2 linked regions of the Homo sapiens genome follow. The protein of the gene in region 1 purifies or fractionates together with the protein of each later gene. This does not show direct contact. Each region holds a gene or a part of one and is shown in the gene's direction. Other genes may lie near its edges.

Region 1 (8,836 bases):
TTAGGTCGTTTGAACATTCATAGTCAAGTCTTGAGGTCCAGGGCATGGAATGCTAAGACTGGCCATCTGTAGTCACACCTACTCTGATGATGAGAATGGTGGGGTCCCTTGGTTGTCATCCCCATTTCAATCAGAGAGAAAGTAAAGGCAGCTCTCAGAATAAAGATTCATAGAACAGATGAAAAAGCAAAAAAGGCCACTAAAGGAAAGTGAATTTATATATATATTTTTTCACTTTAAGCATATCTTGGGCTCTTGCAATTAGGAAAAGAATAGCTATGATGCTATGTTCTCTCAGTTAAGGGCACTGGTTCTGGAATTCAATGATCTGTTTCACATTCTTGCTCTACCACTTATTCGTTTTTCATTTTGAAATTTAGTTTTCTTCACGTGTCGCTGAAGATTAATTATGAGTATGTGGCTTAGTAATGCGCATTCATCATGGACTTGCAGTGACACTGATCCTTCAGCACAGAATATCCTGGCACACGTTCCTGACCAAAAAGCAGCCATTTGTGGGGCACAAGCCAATATTTATTGCATATTCTTGCCTTGGTCTATCTTTCTGATACTAACACCAAATTTTCTAGGATAGAAGACTTCTAACTCTCAGGAAGTAGTTTGTTTCTCAAAGAGAAAACATGGGGTGTTCAGTTGGCTGTGTGGCTGCTCCCATCTGTAGAGGTGAAGTGGATGTACGTAGTCTTCTATGCTGACAGAATAATTCAAAAGAATGCTTTGAAGGTAAATATATAAATCAGTACACTCCCCCAACTCAATACCTTCATGAAATGTATCTTCATGAAGTCTGCCTATTACATTAAAGCTTTTTTTTTCTTTGACAGAGTTTCGCTCTTGTTGCCCAGGCTGGAGTGCAATGGTGCGATCCTGGCTCACTGCAGCCTCTGCCTCCTGGGTTGAAGCGATTCTCCTGTCTCAGCCTCCTGAGTAGCTGGGATTACAGGTACCTGCCACCACATCTGGCTAATTTTGAATTTTTAGTAGAGACGGGGTTTCTCCAATTTGGTAAGGCTGATCTCGAACTCCAGACCTCAGGTAATCTGTCTGCCTTGCCCTCCCAAAGTGCTGGGATTACAGGTGTGAGTCACCATGCCCGGCCTACATTAAAGTTTTAATTTCCAGGAAGACACTCCGACTTGAAGCAGAGTGATATAGTTTGGATACGTCCCCACCAAATCTAATGTTAAATTATAATCCCCAATGTTGGAAGTAGGGCCTAATGGTAGGTGTTTGGGTCATGGAGGTGGATTGCTCATGGCTTGGTGCTATCCTCACCATAGTAAGTGAGTTCTCAGAGATCTGGTCATTTATAAATGTGTGTAGCACTTCCCCCTGACTCTCTCTTTCTTGCTTTTGCTCTGCCTTGTGAGATGTCTGTCTGCTCCCACTTTGACTTCTGCCATGAGTAAAACCTTCCTGAGGCCTCATCAGAGGCTGAGGAGATGCTCCCTGTACAGTTTGCAGAACCATAAGCCAATTCAACTTCTTTTCATTGTAAATTACCAGTATCAGGTATTTCCTTCTTCCTTTCTTTTCTTTGTTTTTGTGGGCGGAGTGGGGAGGTGGGACAAGGTGCTGATTTTAAAAGATAAACAGGAGTTTTCCTGTTATAGAAAGAAGGCAAAACCATTTCAGGAAACCCTGTTATAGAAAGAAGGCAAAACCATTTCAGGAAACCCTGTTATAGAAAGAGGGCAAAACCATTTCAGGAAGAAAGAGTAGTATTTGTAAATGCACAGAAATATGAACTGTGGTGAAATGTTCTGAAAACGATCATCAGTTTGGAATTGCGGGAGAAGGGGTGCAAAGATGGGAACCTGGAACTTGAGGCAGGAGGTGAAGGCAGACCCAGATGATGAGAAGGTTGGCAACAGGAATTTACTGAAGGATTCTACCTGAAGGCAACAGGAATTTACTGAAAGGTTTTAAGCTGAAATTTATGGTTAATTTGGCAGTATTCTGGGAGACAGCTCAGTTGGGATTGTGGCTAGAGGTAGGGAAACTAGTGAGGAGGCTTCTGGAACAGTCCAGGTGAGAGGTGCTGAGGACTTGAACTTTGACCGTGGGGATAAGAATGGAGGCTGAGGAGTTAGGGAGGTGTTTGCCTGGTGTGGACTCAAGTCTCAGACTGCAGAGCAATGGACGTCCACACAGAAGGCAGTGAAGAGAGTCTATTTCCAGGGGCTTTGAAATGAGCTTGAATGTCAGACTTCTGGCTGACACTATGACTGTCTCATGCAGACCTTCAGACAGATTACTTACTAATAAGGAAAATGGTATAGTCTGAAAGTAATCTCAGGCTCTTTGGAATTATGAAGACAGGGCAAAAGTCAAGAGATGGTATGTTTTTGTGCCAAAGACATGGAGGTCTAATGCTGAACCTGAGTTTCAGGTCTGCCCTTTCTAATCAATTATAAGGTGAACTTCAAACTGTTTATGTCTTTTAACCTCAAGGTTCTGCATCTGCCAAATGGGGGACCGGATAATACTTCCTCCAATCTATTTCACAGCTAGCAAGAAAATACTTGTAAGCCATACTTCACATTCCTGACCAAGTCTCTTCCCTCATGAAATAAAATCATTAAGAAATTTTTAGTAATATTTTAATTATCATATTTTAATTAAAAATTTAAGTATAGAAAGAAGACTGTATAGCTCTACATTAAAAACACATTAGTACATGACTTGGCTACTTGACACCAAAGTAGCTGGTGTCACATTCACCCTCCCACGATAAAAAACTATACAATCTGGACAAAATATAGAAAAAAAATTCTTGGCAGTTGTATTAGTCTGTTCTCATGCTGCTAATAAAGACATACCCAAGACTAGGGAATTTATAAAAGAAAGAGGTTTAGTGGACTCACAGTTCCACATGGCTGGGGAGAACTCACAATCATGATAGAAGGCAAAGGAAAAGCAAAGGCACATCTTACATGGCAGACAAGAGAGAGGGCATGTGCTGGGGAGCTCCCCTTTGTAAAACCATCAGATCTCATGAGACTTATTCACTATCACAAGAACAGCATGGGAAAGACCCACCCCCATGACTCAATTACCTCTCACCAGGTCCTCAGCATGGTTCAGGTGGGCAAGGCTACACGTGGGAATTATGGGAGCTACAATTCAAGATGGGATCTGGGTAAGGACACAGCCAAACCATATCAGCAGGCATTGAAGAACATTGTTGTACCAAGTCAGGTATGAGATCTTTAAGGAAGGTGAGACACATGAGGTTAGTACCACATTTGCCAGGGTTTTCCAGAAAGGCATCTTCCTGACCTTGGTACAGGAAAATGGGACCCAACCAGAGGTTAGTGGTCTTGGTAACCAAAAGAAGCAAAAAATAGAGTTCAAAGCTAATAAGCTGGTTGGGAATTGGGGGTTAATGTACCATATGGGAGAGAGAAAGAACCCTGGAAATGGGTGTGTAAATGCCATTTTGGTCCTTCCGTGACTCTTTAGCTGTGTGACAGTTGGCTAAGAAGAGGAGAGACCTAGTAGAAAGCAACTGCTGGGAAAGCAGAAGAGATCATCAGGGACTGAAAATTTCCTGGAAACCTACTGGGTTTCAGATCCAGCCAGATGGGGAAATGTTGGTAAACAACTGAGAAACCCAGTTGGGACCCTAAAGATTCTGTCTAAGGAGAGGTACAGTATCCTAGGAGTAAGGCATATGTCCTAAGAGGAAAATAAAATATCATTACCATAGCACAGCTTAAAACTAGGTCTTGAGAGCAGCAAGGTGATCTGCAGGTAATATAACATCTGTCCAGAAAAAAATTCAAAATTTTTGGGCATTTCTATATCATATTATCCAGAAACTCAGCATACTTTTAAAAAGTTACCACATACACAAAAAAGCAAGAAATACAGACTCATAAAAAATAAATCAATTATTAAAAACAAATTCACAGATAATCCAGATATTGGAGTTAATAGATAGGGCATCATAATATCTATGATCAATATAAAGGAAAGAAAGAAAAAATGAAAGACAAAGCAGGTCGTGTCCTATTTCCTTCTGGCAGCTCTAAAATGCTCACTTTATTTATTGGCATAGATTTCGATTTCCTAAATTATGTTTGATGTTTCAAGCAAAAATCATAGCATTGTCTGGTGTTAATCTAAATGGATGTAAGACAATGATACTATAAATTTGAGAGGGTAAAGAGACATAAAATGACACAGGGTTGCTATACTACACTCAAACTGGAATACAGATGACACCAATTGACTGTGATAATGTATGTATAAAGGAATATCTAGAACAACCACTAAGCTATAAAAAGCAACCAGAAAACTATAAAAAAGAAGATACATCATAAACACTATGAATAACAAAATGGAATTCTAAAATAAATGTTCAAATAACCCACAGAAAGTCATGAAAAACAAGCAGAGACACAAGAGTTGATAGAGAAAACAAAAACTGTCAGGCTTATGCACTAAAGTATCAATAATTCATTTAATTATGAATGGTCTACCAAGAGACAGATAATAGAAGAGTGTATGTAAAAGTATGACCCTTTCTTATATGTTTCTTGCATGCTGTGTACAAGAAACTCACTTGAAATTTACCAATACAGGGCAGGCCAAATTAACAGGATGAAAAAAGATATATTACACAAACATTAATGAAAGGAAAGCAAGAGTGCCTGTATGTATATCAGATAAAGCAAAGAAAATTACCAGAAACAGATTATATAATGATCAAAGGTTTAATTCATGAAGAAGACAGCAATTTTAAAAGTGTATTCACCAAAAAATAAAGCTTCAAAATATGTGATGTGAAAACTGCCAGAACTAAGGCGGGCCGGGCTCAGACCAGCGCTGCCTCAGGATGTGAAGTGTAACAAGAGGGCCAGGGGAGGTGGTGGGGGACAACATGGGCCTGTGAGGCCTGTGGGTGCCCGCGTTCCCCAGCTCCCCCCGCAGCCCGCTCCACAGTGGTCCGCTCCGGTTGGTTGTCACGTGCGCATTCGGGTTCCAGACCCAAGGCTGCGTGTTCTCCACCGCTTGTTGTGGCCAGTGTTACTGCGGTGACCGCCAGAGCAGCCTCGACGCTATGGAGGAGCCTGGTGCTACCCCTCAGCCCTACCTGGGGCTGGTCCTGGAGGAGCTACGCAGAGTTGTGGCAGCACTACCTGAGAGTATGAGACCAGATGAGAATCCTTATGGTTTTCCATCGGAACTGGTGGTATGTGCAGCTGTTATTGGATTTTTTGTTGTTCTCCTTTTTTTGTGGAGAAGTTTTAGATCGGTTAGGAGTCGGCTTTACGTGGGAAGAGAGCAAAAACTTGGTGCAACGCTTTCTGGACTAATTGAAGAAAAATGTAAACTACTTGAAAAGTTTAGCCTTATTCAAAAAGAGTATGAAGGCTATGAAGTAGAGTCATCTTTAGAGGATGCCAGCTTTGAGAAGGCGGCAGCAGAAGAAGCACGAAGTTTGGAGGCAACCTGTGAAAAGCTGAACAGGTCCAATTCTGAACTTGAGGATGAAATCCTCTGTCTAGAAAAAGACTTAAAAGAAGAGAAATCTAAACATTCTCAACAAGATGAATTGATGGCGGATATTTCAAAAAGTATACAGTCTCTAGAAGATGAGTCAAAATCCCTCAAATCACAAATAGCTGAAGCCAAAATCATCTGCAAGACATTTAAAATGAGTGAAGAACGACGGGCTATAGCAATAAAAGATGCTTTGAATGAAAATTCTCAACTTCAGACAAGCCATAAACAGCTTTTTCAGCAAGAAGCTGAAGTATGGAAAGGAGAAGTGAGTGAACTTAATAAACAGAAAATAACATTTGAAGACTCCAAAGTACACGCAGAACAAGTTCTGAATGATAAAGAAAATCACATCAAGACCCTGACTGGACACTTGCCAATGATGAAAGATCAGGCTGCTGTGCTTGAAGAAGACACAACGGATGATGATAACCTGGAATTAGAAGTGAACAGTCAATGGGAAAATGGTGCTAACTTAGATGATCCTCTGAAAGGAGCTTTGAAGAAACTGATTCATGCTGCTAAGTTAAATGTTTCTTTAAAAAGCTTAGAAGGAGAAAGAAACCACATTATTATTCAGTTATCTGAAGTGGACAAAACAAAGGAAGAGCTTACAGAGCATATTAAAAATCTTCAGACTCAACAAGAATCTTTGCAATCAGAAAACATATATTTTGAAAGTGAGAATCAGAAGCTTCAACAGAAACTTAAAATAATGACTGAATTCTATCAAGAAGATGAAATGAAACTCTATAGGAAATTAACAGTGGAGGAAAATTACCGAATAGAGGAAGAAGAGAAGCTTTCTAAAGTGGAAGAAAAGCTCAGCCGTGCCACTGAACAGCTGGAGACCTATAGAAAGCTAGCCAAAGATCTTGAAGAAGAATTGGAGAGAACTGTTCATTTTTATCAAAAGCAGGTTATTTCCTACGAGAAAAGAGGACATGATAATTGGTTGGCAGCTCGGACTGCTGAAAGAAACCTCAGTGATTTAAGGAAAGAAAATGCTCACAACAAACAAAAATTAACTGAAACAGAGTTGAAATTTGAACTTTTAGAAAAAGATCCTAATGCACTTGATGTTTCAAATACAGCATTTGGCAGAGAGCATGCCCCGAATGGTCCCGCACCATTGGGTCAGCGTTCATCTGAAACGAGAGCTTTTCTCTCTCCTCAAACTTTGTTGGAGGATCCACTGGGACTCTCACCTGTGCTTCCGGAGGGAGGAGGAAGAGGCCCAAGAGGCCCAGGGAATCCCCTGGACCATCAGATTACCAATGAAAGAGGAGAACCAAGCTGTGACAGGTTAACCGATCCTCACAGGGCTCCTTCTGACACTGGGTCCCTGTCATCTCCGGTGGAACAGGACTGTAAGATGATGTTTCCTCCACCAGGACAATCATATCCTGATTCAGCTCTTCCTCCTCAAAGGGAAGACAGATTTTATTCTAATTCTGAAAGACTGTCTGGATCAGCAGAACCCAGAAGTTTTAAAATGACTTCTTTGGATAAAATGGATGGGTCAATGCCTTCAGAAATGGAATCCAGTAGAAATGATGCCAAAGATGATCTTGGTAATTTAAATGTGCCTGATTCATCTCTCCCTGCTGAAAATGAAGCAACTGGCCCTGGCTTTATTCCTCCACCTCTTGCTCCAGTCAGAGGACCATTGTTTCCAGTGGATACAAGGGGCCCGTTCATGAGAAGAGGACCTCCTTTCCCCCCACCTCCTCCAGGAACCATGTTTGGAGCTTCTCGAGGTTATTTTCCACCAAGGGATTTCCCAGGTCCACCACATGCTCCATTTGCAATGAGAAACATCTACCCACCGAGGGGTTTACCTCCTTACTTTCACCCGAGACCTGGATTTTACCCCAACCCCGCATTCTGAAGGTAGAAGCGAGTTCCCTTCAGGATTGATTCCGCCTTTAATGCTACTGAACATCCAGGACCACAAAAGAAACCTGACAATATTGTTGCTTTCTTCAAAAGTAATTTTGACTGATCTCATTTTCAGTTTAAGTAACTGCTATTACTTAAGTGATTGCACTTTTGCTCAAATTGAAGTTTAATGGAATTATAATTCTCAGGATAGTATTTTGTAAATAAAGATGTTTTAAATAGGAATCTTATGAGTAAATCATTCCATTTTATTATTCTAGATCATATAACTATTTTAATTTGGTGAATTAATCCACTGTTATAGAAACAATAATGGGAGTTTTATATATGTAATCTTGCAGGTGGGGAGGCTTTAAATTCTAAAGGTTGTGGTGTCTTCATGCCAAGAACTGTATTCACTGTGGTTGTAGATAAATGTGAAAGTAACTTTATGCTTAATTTAATAAACTTTAGTTGATTTTTTTTTTAAAAAGAAAACTGCCAGAACTGAAAGTAGGTATAGATGAATCCACAATTATAGTTGGAAATTTTCTCTTGCGTTTTTCAATAATGGATAGAACTAGACAGAAAATCAGCAAGGAGTGTTGGCTTTGGCAGCACTTTCTAAAATTAGAATGACACAGACAAGATTAACACGTCTCCTGCATATAGATTACACAAAATTTTGTGAAGCGTTTCATATTTTAAAAGGGGGGAAAAAAAAAGAAAATCAACAAGAATATAAAACAACTCAAAATGCCATTAACCAAAAGAATCTATTTGGCATTTACAGAATATTCCACACAACAACAGCAGAATACACATTTTTTTTGAGTGCTGACGAAACACATGGCAAGATAGAGCTATCCTAGGCCCTAAAACTCACCAGAACAAATTTAAAAGAGATCGTAATCATCCAGAGCAGGTGAAAACCAGAAACCATTGTAGGGAATCCAATTGGAAATCAGCATAAGAAAGATATGAAAATTCCCAAACACTTGGAAATTAAAAAAACACACTTCTAACTAATCTATCGGTCAAAGAAGAAGTCTCAAGGAAAAATTTTAAAAATACATTGAACTGGATAAACATGAAACTGTGACATATCAATGTACTGAGAAGGAAACTTATAGCAGTAAATGCATGCATTAGTAAAGAGGAAAAGTCTCGAGTGAGCAATAGATTTCCACCTCAGGAACCTAGAAAAAGAAGAGCAGAATAAACTCAAAGCAAGTAGAGGGTGGAGATTAATGAAGATAAGAAAAGAAAACACTTATATTTAAAAGAGAAAAAATAGTTAAACCAATAAAACAAAGGGATAGTTCTGTTAAAAGATTAATAAAATTTAGCAAACTCAAACAGAAATTAAAAGGAAAAGAAAAGGCATAAATTTTAAATACCATAATGAAACAGGTGATATCAC
Region 2 (6,729 bases), on another chromosome or scaffold:
TATTTCAGGAACATTTAGCTCTTCCTACAACTCTCTCTTTGCCTCATCTCCTATTTGTGTGTTCTATCTGTACTATCTCATTTATTTTTTAAAAAAGCAAACTGTTCTCCAAGAGCCTGAAGTCCCCTCAGTTCCCAGCATTACATCTTTGGCTGAGCGTCCAGTAGCAGTAAGTACTTAGAAGTGTGGACTGAACTGGGCTATAAGTTGCATGGCAATATTGATCTTACTTTTATCCTTGACTTGGGAGTGTTGCTGAAATCTGACGGATTCATTGGCCTTTTCTCCTCTCTCCTGTTTGGTTAGACATTTAACCTGTGTAGAGCATCTGCTGTAACTGTAATTAACTTAAACAAAAGTGAAAAGTCCCCACTCTTGTGTGTCTCAGTGTTTAATGCTCTTAGGCAAAGTAAATTCATTGTAAATTGTGTAATTCATTATTATGTCTTCATTTGGAAGTGTGCTATTTAAGAATACCTACAGTTGTATACTAGGCAAACCCTATTTTGAATGATCTGAAATTACAGATTGATAACAGAAGAATGTTTGCTGGAAGTGAAATACTGAATAGTGGAAGTCTATAATTACCCGTTGAGCCAGTTCCCAGCAGTGTCCTTAAACAGTGTCCACATAAGTGTATTCTCTTGTAACTTGTATAGCTGTTATGGCTGGTAAGTCCTCTGATCATACCTCACTGTGATTCTCGACATTGAAATTAAAATAATTTTAATGATTGAGAGTTTCCAACCCACTTTCCCATAGGAAGTGATTAATCAGTATCTCATAGTAGACAGTATTACTAGTGAATGAAGATGAATAGAGCTGTGCCTGTATAATTTGTGTACATAACATTGTTTCTCTTGGAAAATACTTCCAAGTTCCAGCACAGGACTCCAGGAATACACATTTCTTGAGAAATGTTTTTATCCAAGAGCAGCTTGGATAAGACCCGAGACCCCTTTGAAGTAGGAGACTTCGAAGAGTGTAGAGACTACTTTGTTAGAAAGGAGAAGCAGAGGTGGAAAGAACGTGGCCTTGGAGTCAAACCTGGCATGGAATTCCAGCCAGCCTCTTACATGCTGTGTGACCATCAGCAAATCTAATACTCTCTGCGCCTGTGTTCCTGCATATTTAGAACAAGATGGTCCTATTACAGATTTAGAGATGTCAGAATTTGTGTTAATATATGTAGGGCCTACAGAAGGTACTCTGAATAATCGCTGTTACATGGTAGAGAATGGATTTTTCATTCCCTTTCATTCTCTGCATTCTTAATATGGAAATTACTCTGATAGGAGGGATGTGCAGAGGGAGTGACTGCCTTAGAAATAGATGTATGAATGGCGTAACTTCTATCATTAGTCAGGAATGACCTCCATTTATAACCTGTGCGTTCCCTTCCATTTGCAGATGTAAGCAATAATATGATACAGCAAGTGTTCACTCCTGTGGCATACTTTTAACCTTTCTAAGCTTGTCAGTGGGAACAAATGAGAGGGGTAGAGTTTTTTGCACTAATTCTGCTCTTTGGACAAGTGCCTGACATCTGCTTCATTGGGTTTTAGTTTTTACTGGTGTTGGTGCTTTTGTCTGTCATACCATAGTATTTCAAAACTTCAATTGTTTCTACTCTGCAGGTTAATATGGCTCCAAAAGGGCCCCCTCCTTTCCCAGGAGTCCCTCTCATGAGCACCCCCATGGGAGGCCCTGTACCACCACCCATTCGATATGGACCACCACCTCAGCTCTGCGGACCTTTTGGGCCTCGGCCACTTCCTCCACCCTTTGGTAAGATGATCTGAACAGTAGTAATTGACTTGTAAAGCACATTCATCTTCTCCATCTATCCCTTGCTAAAACAACTGCAATTGCGGGGCTTTGCAATGCAGCAGTGAAGCTGATTGAGTACACCGTAACTTTTCCCCAAGTTTCTTCAGACACAAAGGGTGCTACATAATCTCCTGTGATTAGATGGGCAATAGTTGTCTCTAATAGAACAAGGAAAGGGGCTATTTATAAAAAGCCAGAAATATTCATCACATTGAACATCTGTGGCTGTGTACTAGGCTCTGCAATGGATAGCAAGGTAGATAAAATACATCCCCTAACTAAGATGTCCTGTAGGTCACAAATATACACATTCTACAACATAAAGCTTCTAATCACCCATAATGGAAGCATAAGCAGTAGGTCACAGAATATTAAGGAAAGACAAAACCCTCAACCCTCACCTTGGGAATACAAAGAAGGGAGATATGAAAGAGAAGGTAGAATTTAACAGCTATCTAATGAATGCTGCTGAATTTAATTAGATGGAGCTGGAAAGCCTTTTCCAGCAGGGCAAGCACCTTAATTTTTATGGCATTTATTAGGTACATCTTGAGCTACTGCATAAATTTTTAACTGATACACAGTAGTTAATGGAATTTATCAAAATTTTTATTGCAATGAAGCCATATTTAGTCTGTCTTCTTGGTATGGTATATAGTACTTCCAAGTACAAATCTATCTCTCTTTTTCAGATAAAGATGGCAGGCCAGGCACAGTGGCTCACGCCTGTAATCCCAGCACTTTATGAATCCCAGCATTCATTAGACGAGGCTGAGGCAGGTGGATCCCTTGAGCCTAGGAGTTTGAGACCAGCCTGGGCAACATGGTGAAACCCCCATCTCTACAAAAAATCCAAAAATTAGCTGGGAGTGGTGGCGTGCACCTGTAGTCCCAGCTACTGGGGAGTCTGAGGTGGGAGGATTGATTGAGTCCGGGAGATTGAGGCTGCAGTGAGCCATGATCACTCATTACACTCCAGCCCATGTGACAGGCAAGACCCTGCCGCCAAAAAAAAAAAAAAAAAAAAAAAAGGATGACAGACTATATTAACATACCTGGCATTATCTTAATTTAAATACGTTCCTAGGAATTTACTGGAAATAATTTTTGTTTTCCAGGCCCTGGTATGCGTCCACCACTAGGCTTAAGAGAATTTGCACCAGGCGTTCCACCAGGAAGACGGGACCTGCCTCTCCACCCTCGGGGATTTTTACCTGGACACGCACCATTTAGACCTTTAGGTTCACTTGGCCCAAGAGAGTACTTTATTCCTGGTACCCGATTACCACCCCCAACCCATGGTCCCCAGGAATACCCACCACCACCTGCTGTAAGAGACTTACTGCCGTCAGGCTCTAGAGATGAGCCTCCACCTGCCTCTCAGAGCACTAGCCAGGACTGTTCACAGGCTTTAAAACAGAGCCCATAAAACTATGACCTCTGAGGTTTCATTGGAAAGAAAGTGTACTGTGCATTATCCATTACAGTAAAGGATTTCATTGGCTTCAAAATCCAAAAGTTTATTTTAAAAGGTTTGTTGTTAGAACTAAGCTGCCTTGGCAGTGTGCATTTTTGAGCCAAACAATTCAAAAATGTCATTTCTTCCCTAAATAAAAATCACCTTTTAAGCTAGAGCGTCCTTACAACTTTGAAATGTGCAATAAAGAATACCTGTGTTTTAGCTAATGTAGCATATGTAATTGCAAAATGATTTAGAATGTCATGAAAAATATGAACATTTCCTGTGGAAATGCTTTAAGAACATGTATTTCCATTATCCTATTTTTAGTGTACACCAGCTGAATACGGAGCAATGGTGTTTATAAGCGTTTTTTTAAACTATCTGGTCACAAAGACTGTTACGCTAAAAATGTTTACTAAAAGATCACTAAACTATCTCCCCTCTTGCTGAAGTTCTTTGTAGTAATAGCTCATAAAAATTTGTTTATTAATATTTCCCAAGTGTCTGTTGACTCATTGGACTGTTATGAGGCTTGTGCCATTTGGGGAACATGTAAACTCAGGCTCCCAGAACTGAAGATGGTGGCTGGTGGCACACTTCCGGCTGCTCCTCCGTCACCTGTGAACTCTACAAGTGACGTCTTTTTATTTCAAAGAAGTTTATTTCCCACTTGTATAGCATTCACATGCTTTCTTTACGATCCTCATTGTCTATTTGAGAATGGTTTTCTGAGAGTGAGTTTACATTAGTAGCAAGAGTTGTTTGACCTGATGTTCCATTGTTTTTACCATTCCTGTAGAAAAAGGGTGCACAACAGAAAAATGAAAATGATGTGTCATGGCCATAAAAGTATAGAAATCTTTAAAAATTTTAAAATGTACAGTCCCTTATCTATCTTTCCCATTCCTTGCCACTGATTTTTGAGGAATATAATAAAAAGATTGGAAGAGTATAATGCCATGAGAAAGAATGATTTAGGACTGTGAGGGTTATAACATGCCCTAGGTCAGCAACCAAGGGTTGAAATCAGTTCTGTTTTAGGGGGAAATGGGGGCGACAGATATTATTCCAAAATTAATATTAATTAATATTTAAACGTTGGTGTTTTTATTTAAAAATCAGTAACTAACCATCTGGAATTGCACCATACTTAAAGTCTTATCCATTACTACACTGTCTTTAAAACAATGTTTCTTTAAATACTCTACAACGTTTCTAAGAACGAACTTCAGACATTTTAATTACAGTAATAATAGCACTCCTTTTAAGGAGTTTCAGATCCACACTAAAACTAAAATCATAAAAGGCTGATACTTTTGTTTGCTGCTAGGCTATATTCTTCCATTCTTTGAAGTCCTATGATGTAATATTTTTGAAACCTAGTGTATGTCTTGTCACTGTTGTGATATTTAATCGATTAAGAATACCTTGTAAAAAGGAGCAAAAGCTTCAATGTGAAACAATTTTCTCTCTTTATACTAAACAACTGAAGATAGATAGTTTAGAAAGATAAGGACCTTTGAAAGAAGACAACTCTGTCAAAGTTCATAAGGAATATAAAAATTCTTCAGGAAAAGAGAATTCAATCTATATGTCCTCCCGTTTAATATCAAGAATAGAAGAAATTAAGAGGAAAACTCCACAGAAGAGCATAGGCCACTTTTAGCCATGTAAAAATAAGATTAAGTCACAAATACAACTTTTGAATTTACCTGTCAATATCTCTTTAGGACACAAAACAATGCTGAAGTTAATATAATTTCTAATTTTAAATGTCATTTAAGTGTAGATTATGCCATCTAGGAAGGTAAGTAGGAAAGGTAAATTAAATCTATTTTTAAAATTCAAAATATTAGAGTATTTTTCCCCTCTAAAGCCTTTTTTGGTGATTATTCTGTATCTGACATAATTGAGAAACTGGTAAGCTGTAAAGATTCCAGTGTAGCTTCTCTGAGAAGTTGTGAGCCAGTCCATAACTGCTTCCTCACATCCATCTGATTGCACCATTTCTGCAGCAAACCCCAAAGCAGGGTGCCAATATGCAGATGGCATAGGGAGTATCATCCCTCAGCCAAATCACTTTTCCATCTCTAAAGTTTCATCTATTTTGGAAGTCATCTCCAACTAATTGTGTCTGGATTTAGTTGCTAAAATTGTCTTATTTATGAAGCAGCAATATTCAGCCTGAAAGCATTTCTGCCATAGTTGTTGTAGTTATATCGCCAATGGCTGATTTTTTTCATTGGAAAGTAAATTTAAGTAATTCGTGGGATGTGGTATATTCTGTGTCAACTTCAAGATAATCACTCATTTTCTCGTTATATTCAGGTCTGAATTAAAGTTAAGTTAATCACACAGTGTTCAATTTAAGCTTCTTTAATGTTGATGAAAGGTATTTGTAGTTCATATAAACTATACTTATGTGAAGGATAGCAGATGCTTCATATAAATTATCATTTTGATATACATATCTTATGGTTTATGAGAAAAGAGAAAAAATAATACATCGGTTTTGCTACACTTTAATGGGTTTTTTTTTTAAGGGATTTTTTTTCAGGTCTTGTCAGCAACATCAAACAAAAGGTACTGAGTACTCCACAGGGTACAGAGTGCTGCCAAGCACCTTAGAAAAATTACATGACACGGAGAAAATGCGCCTCTTGCTCCTTGAAGAGCTTACAGTCTAGGGATTTGACAACTCACAGTCTTAGGAACTGGGCAAAGTAAGGCAAATTCTTCATCCCCTAGAGCTATTGTGGACTGAATCATTTTAGAATTTGGAATTAATCCAATCAAGATGAGAGACAAGACTAAATTTGGCTGAGAATTCATTCAGGCTCGCATAGTTTTTATTAACATCCGTCTAGTAAACAGAATGGACCTAACAGACAACTGAAAGTAAAGACTAGATCTCTTGAAGTGCAAGGGCTACAACAACTTAGTTGTGGTTACTTATTTTAAAAAGCAAACATACTGAATGGTATGACTAGGGTGATTACACTAGTTTAAAAATAGGCCAGGTACTGACACTGCATTCCCCTCATGCATTGCTCATTTAAAATAGTGAATATTAAAATATGTGGGCTTTACATCTAACCCACAGAAAGCCCACCGCAAATGTTCTGTGTATCAAATATCCACCTCATGTGTACTATGAAAGTTTTATTTATGCCCCATTAAGTCAAAAGTAAATTATAGTAAGCTAATGACCTGCATATTTTCATATGGATGAATGTCAGTATATCTAAATAGGAAATAAATGGCGATCCTATCTACCTATATAAAAAAAATAGAATATCTTTCCAGATTTTGCATACTCCTCACTGTAAGAAGAGGTATGCAGGTTTTAAGGTTTCACAATCAGTTGTCAGAAAAACAGCAGTTATGCCTGCAGTATCTCGTTAGCATCTGACTCAATTATTTTTAGATTACATTGT

Evidence for each region.
Region 2: the proteins of CTAGE6 (region 1) and MIA3 purify together in Homo sapiens (affinity purification with mass spectrometry; 2 studies listed by BioGRID and IntAct, with this or other methods). This does not show direct contact.

The regions. Positions count from the first base shown.
Region 1 is NC_000007.14:143,753,912-143,762,747, reverse strand, and holds CTAGE6 (cTAGE family member 6), read left to right. Parts: upstream 1-5,051; 5' UTR 5,052-5,089; coding exon 5,090-7,423; 3' UTR 7,424-7,659; downstream 7,660-8,836.
Region 2 is NC_000001.11:222,662,361-222,669,089, forward strand, and holds the end of MIA3 (transport and Golgi organization protein 1 homolog isoform 1 precursor), read left to right. Parts: intron 1-97; coding exon of another isoform or gene 98-169; intron 170-1,637; coding exon 1,638-1,788; intron 1,789-2,948; coding exon 2,949-3,259; 3' UTR 3,260-5,647; downstream 5,648-6,729.